2 separate regions of the Homo sapiens genome follow, and region 2 is linked to region 1. A link means that fine-mapping ties the variant in region 1 to the expression of a gene that starts in the linked region. Tissue or cell type: blood mononuclear cells. Region 1 holds a variant in brackets; the other region holds the start of a gene. All regions are shown on one strand. Distances are between the middles of the regions. Region 1 overlaps ASTN2 (astrotactin 2). Region 2 holds the start of TRIM32 (tripartite motif containing 32).

Evidence for each region. PIP is the estimated chance that this variant, and not a neighbour inherited with it, causes the effect. A credible set is the group of variants that fine-mapping cannot tell apart.
Region 2: TRIM32 starts here. The variant in region 1 is the best candidate, but not a certain one, in a credible set for the expression of TRIM32 in blood mononuclear cells (TOPMed, PIP 0.88).

The regions. Positions count from the first base shown.
Region 1 is chr9:116,711,395-116,714,308 of GRCh38, reverse strand. The region is part of intron 16 of ASTN2 (astrotactin 2); the gene reads left to right. Among named protein-coding and RNA genes, the nearest start is that of TRIM32, 26 kb to the right of the region's middle. The variant T/A (reference allele first, on the strand shown) is at 1,516.
Region 2 is chr9:116,685,796-116,688,709 of GRCh38, reverse strand. It overlaps TRIM32 (tripartite motif containing 32), which reads right to left and starts at 1,405. Exons shown (of 2, transcript NM_012210.4): 1 at 1,329-1,405. The region is part of intron 16 of ASTN2 (astrotactin 2); the gene reads left to right. RefSeq lists enhancers at 929-978, 1,419-1,738 and a silencer at 1,149-1,348.

The DNA.
Region 1 (2,914 bases):
TGTCATGGCTGTTTCTCCCTGGCTAATCTGTCAGCTTTTGAATTTGAGCTTTTCCTAAACCTGGAGGTGGGAATAGAAGGTGAGAATGTCAGATAGCACAGCCTGGAGCTCAGCAGTAGGGCACATGGGAGCATGTTTGCACAGCTGAACACCAAGCTTATATTGTTCTAGAAGAATGTATATATGTGCGTATATGTGTGTTGGAAGAGAAGGTGACAGAGGAAAGGGCAACAATGATTTACATGTGTTGAGTTCCTATTATGAGTTAGTTAATCACATGATCTCATATTGTCTTCATAACAACCCTGTGAGGTCCAAATTATTATTTCCATCTTCCTAATGTGAAAACTTATCTGCTCAAGGTTACATGGCTAATAAAAGGTAGAGCCAGGATTCCATCCTAGGGCTGTCTGACTTCCAAGTCCTTATGCCATGTACTGAGAATTCACTACATGCCAGGAGATATGCTGGGCATTTCACATGCACAATTTCATTTAATCCCTACAACTTCCTAAAATTGGTATCTTTATGGAAGTAAACTGAGATTTGGGAGTGAGGGGTAAGATATACAACCCAAAGGCACAGAGTTGGCAAATGGTATTCTCTCATGCCTTCTCTTTCTTCTGTCTTTTCATGCTCCGATTCTCTTACCATTTACATTTTACTATTACTTAGCCAAAGTGGGCACTCCCAAAGTTCTCTTTGTGTGGCATTTCTCTTCTCCCTGCAACAATTAGAAGTACTTAGTCAGGAAGAGCGAAAAAAGAGGGAGATTGATCGGCAGGATGTAAGCCTGCATGATGCTGACCAGCAGGCTCTAGACCCTTGTTTCCTAGCAACCCCTTGGCTCTGAGTCAGAGTGCCAGCTCTGAGACGGGCCTTAGAGATCAACTTCACCATTGATACATTGGGTAGGAGCTGGCCTTAGTTGTCTTCATCTGATGTACCAGCCCTAGGCCCCAGGCTTTCCTCTTTAGGGTCCTTTGTCTTTAGGGTCTTCCTTGCTGTTCCCTCCTACTCCACAGATGCCCAGAAAGAAGGCTCCTTTTGGAGATCTTGATTCAATAAGTCTCCGGGGTATGGGGCACCAGAATCATTGAAGTTTACAACTAGAAAGATCCTTAATTTAACAAATATAGATGGTGGAAATGGAGTGCCATGGAGAAGAAAAATAATTGCCCAAAGAGAACCATTAGTTAATAATATTAGGACTCAAACAGGATTAGTACTCTCTCTTTCTTCCCCCATCCAAGGAAGTGTGTTGAGTGGCAATTCAAAAGGCCATGTGTCCAAAGGTCACATGGCTGCTAATAGGCAGAGACAGGATTCCATCTCAGGACTGTCTGACTCCCAAGTCCACATGACATGTACTGAGAATTCATTACATGCCAGGAGGTATGCTGGGCATTTATTATCTCCATTTCCTAACGTGGAAACTCACTTGCTCAAGGTCACATTTTTACGTTCGTAACAGCTTTATTGAGATATATTTCATATAACACACAATGAAAGGTA[T/A]ATTTTTGAGCCTTCTCTTCCAATGGTGACATTGCACCAAAACAAAGTTCGGGTTGAGTCTAGAAAGGAACGCAACTTTCAATTATTTTACAGTTGAGAAGATTCTCTAAGGAAAAGCAAATCAGAGGGAACCACTCCTCCCACCTTTCAACCATACCCCACTTTCTATTGCAGCTAGACTTAATGATTCAGGGATGCAGGTACTAGGAGAAGCAGGAGGTGGCATAACCAGCTGATGCTAATTGTGACCCAGAGTGCTCACATATGTCAACATATGAGCTAAGCTGACCTCTGGTTTTATTCAGCAACAATTATAGTGCCTACTATGTTTCAGGTACTGTGCTAGATGCTATGGATGCAGCAGTAAATTAAATATTGCCTTGCCTTCAGAGAGCTCATTTTAGTCTTGGAAAAAGATATTTAATGAGAAAAATCACCATGAAATATGTAAATGCTAGAGGGAGAAATATAAAGTGTGGCATGAACACCTGGCTCAAAACAGTTAAGGTGGATCCAAAAGGGCATTCCAGAACACTTGAAGAAGGTAAGATTTAGGCCAACACAGGTGGGTATGGAGAAGGTAAATGTTCCAAGATGCAAGAAAAGCATGTACAAAAATGTCCCTGAGATAAGAAAAAAGAAATTGTGGATGGAGCAAAGCTCTAGAGGGGATGGAAGTGGTGGTAAGATAAACCTAGAAAGATAGATGGACAGGAATCAAATCCCACTGGGATGTATAGACCATGTTAAGAAAGTTGTACCTTTGCTAGGAGCACTTAAAGGTCATTTAAAGGTTTTGTATATTATCATTAGCATTTGCATTTTAGAATTTGACTCTGGCTAGTGTGGGATAGGGCTTGACTTGGGATGGGAGGAAGTATATGTGAGATGCTAGATTAGAGTTAGGAGGATCAGTTAGGGAGTTGTAGTAGTGTTTCAAGGAGAAAAATAATAGCTTAAAATTTAGCAGCCATGAGGATTCAGAAAAAAAATTAATGTATGTGAAAAATATTAAGTGGCTAGAATGATGAGAACTTCATGATGGGACAGTAGAAGGTGAAAGGTGAGGAAAATGATTAGACATGGTGCCAAGCTTTCTGACTTAAGGGCCTGAGTGACTGCTGGAGTTCCTTAGGTGAAATAAAAAAGGAGCAGCAGGTATGGTAGAGCCAAGTTCAGTTTTGAATATACTGAGTCTAAGATTCCTAAGGTATATACAACTGGCAATATAAAATGGGCAGCTGGGTATACACCAATCTGGTGATCAAAAAGAAGGTAAGACATGAAAAATACAGTTTGGTATGTAGCTGCATACATGATTGAAGTCATAGAAAAAGATGGTATCGTCCAGAAGAAAAATAAATGTTCCCTTTTGCAATTTGTTTTCTTAAGCTACTTT
Region 2 (2,914 bases), 26 kb after region 1:
GGCTTAGGCAGATGACCTTGAATAGTTCCACTTCTTCTTCCCCAAAGCCTACCACTTTCAGTGGGCCGGGGGACCGGTGGTCAGAATGGAGTTAGTGGCAATACCATACCTGCCTCATGATAACGGATCTTTGTTTAATAAATGAAGAAGATTCTGCCCTTCACAGGGATTACCACACTCCTTCAGGATTATCTGAACTGAAGATTTATCACTTTGTTCCTCAGCACCTGAACTCTGCTCATCTTCATATACTCATCCAGTTTCATACATTACTTTTAGGTCCTTGGGTCCCCTGAACTCCCTCTGTCTCCCATGCAGCGATTTAAGGAAAATCTCTTTAGCAGCCCAAGACACCAATCCACAAATCTACTCAGGGTCCTTTGATTTTATAGCCCAGTTAGGACATCTCCACCCCACGATTCAATCCTCTCCAAACCCTGTCCCCAACCCTCTTACAATTCCAAATTCCAATCTTTGGGGCTGTATATTGCAACCCTCGTCAATTCCTCACTCATATGCCCCAAATCCCTCGGACTCAGATCGTTTAATCCCTATTTCCAAATCTCTGCCACACTCAGCCCCGCACCTCAGTTCAACGCCCCAATTCCTCACCCCAGATTTCTGCTCTCCCTCAATCTGAGCCCCCATCTCCTGCATTCCATCGGGCACTGTGCTGCCCTCATACCCTGCTCCTTCCTCTTATGCACTGAATGTCATGTGCTGCCTTCACACCTCAGCCAGCTCCCTTCTTTCTGCTAACAAGATAGAGTCCCTCAAGAACTCACCCCACCCCCTCAATCTCACCCTCAGCCCACTCCGAAAACCCTTTCTCAATAGCACTTAGGATCGCCCTAGACCTTGCTCCTATCATCTCAGACCCTGTCCTTGCCAGATGCCTAGCGCCCCCAGATTTCCTCAAATCTCATCGGGGCCCCCCAGTTCCTTCATATTTCTGAAATTCTGCACCCAGGTCCCTCCAGGGCCCTGATTCCCTCCCATCTCCCACATGCTACACCCCGTTCCTCCTCAGGGCCCCGACATTACCTCATACCTCCCGAGATGCTGCAACCGCAAATCTCTTCAGAGCCCCTCGCTCCCCTCCCCCAGCTGCATCTCCTCGGATCTCCTCAGCCCCACGAATCCCTCCCGAGCCTGCCCCTCGCAGCCCCACCCCCACCCTAGTCCTGCCCCCCCCAGATCCGGTCCCCACACCCTGCCATTCGGGCGCGGCCGCTGCACGCCGGCACGTTCCCCCGCCTGGCCGCTGAGCCACGGCCCACGACTCCGGCCGCGGTCCCCAGTCCCCAACCCTCCTTCCCGCCCCCTACCTGACCGCCCGCGGCTCCGACGAGTCCACCGCCGGCAGCCCACCCGCCTGCCTCCCTCTGCGCACGCGCCGTTGAGCACCCCTTGCCGGGCGCCAATTCGCAGAGCTCCCTGTCCGTCACTGAGCCCCGCCTCCCCAGCATGCTGGGGCTTGTCGTGCAGCTGGCCCCAAGCGCGCGGGGCAAGGCGGCCCTGCAGGGGTGAGCTTTCCTCTGAGAACCCGGGGCCTTAGCGACACGTAATCCAGTTTTCCGTCTCCTTGGTGCAGATGAAGAAACCGACGCCCATGGGCGAAAGGGACCTGCTCAAGTTCACTCAGTAAGTCAGGAGATAAGCCAGAATGCGTATCTGACTCCAGTCTCAATGTCTACCCCTTCACAAAACGGTAGCCTCCAGGGTAGTCCTCAGCAAAGCGTTGGCACCTTACTGAATCTGTTTTTCCATCTGAGAAATGGGCCAACGGAAAAATCAAACTTCCATTCTGGGGAAGTCGAGAACCGGGACTCCCTAGGAAGGGCAGTGCTTTGGCCTCATGTTCTGTGCTCTGACAGAGAGCTGCACTAGAGACAAGTTTATCCATGAACACATTGCTCTGTAAAGGAATGTTTTGCCTACTCAGCTGGGAGGCCGACAGCAGAGGCAGACTTGGGGAGTACACTCTGCAGCCCCTGTCCCTGCAGACTGAAGGTACCCGGGAACCCAAACCAAGTGTAGTTTTGCTCGGGTGAAGGTGGAGGAATCTTACCAGGTGGGAGGTGATCTGGCCTGAGATTTGAGGGAATCTGGGGCACTAGGCATCTGGCAAGGACGAGGTCTGATACAGGACTGGCTGGCCACGACCTGCAGTCCCTGAAGTAGTTTGGGGCCAATCACCTACTCTCCAAGGTGACTATACTGTACAGCTTAGGAGCACAAAGGAGTTTGAAGTAGGATGGACTTGGATTTGAAATTCCCCTTAGCTATGTGACCCTGCACAATGATAAAACAATAAACAAAAACAATGACTAACATCTTTGAACACTTGCTGTCTGGCTACAGCTGAGGACTTCAGGTGCATAGCTCACTAAATCCTCATAAGGACCTAATGAGATAAGGCAGCTGATGGTTAACCTACACCTGTTGTGTAACCTAGGTGGTTACACAAGGCCACATATACCTAAGTGTTGGAGCCCAAATTTGTACCCAATTCTATCTGAGAACCCACTCTCTTAACCTTGTTTACTCTTTCTCCCCATTTTCTAAATTTCTAATTGAAGTTTGCCATGAAGATAAGCCAAGATTATGGTAGTTTGCACTTAATGATAACTATATTTGAAAAATTGTAATTAGCAGGTAGGGGATAAGGGAGAGGTAATGCCAAATGATTTCTCACTTAGACCAGTTGGGGAGACTTTGCACCCGTTTAAAATTTTTTTTTTTCCTGAAAACCACAGTTATCAGCCCAAAGTATAAATTTAGGACTGTTCATAGTCTTACATATATACATATTATATATGTGTGTATATGTATCAATACAGACATACTGATGTTTCCCTAATTACAGAGGAGTGTTAAAAATACTCCTGGGGATCTAGCTCAAGCAAGTGTC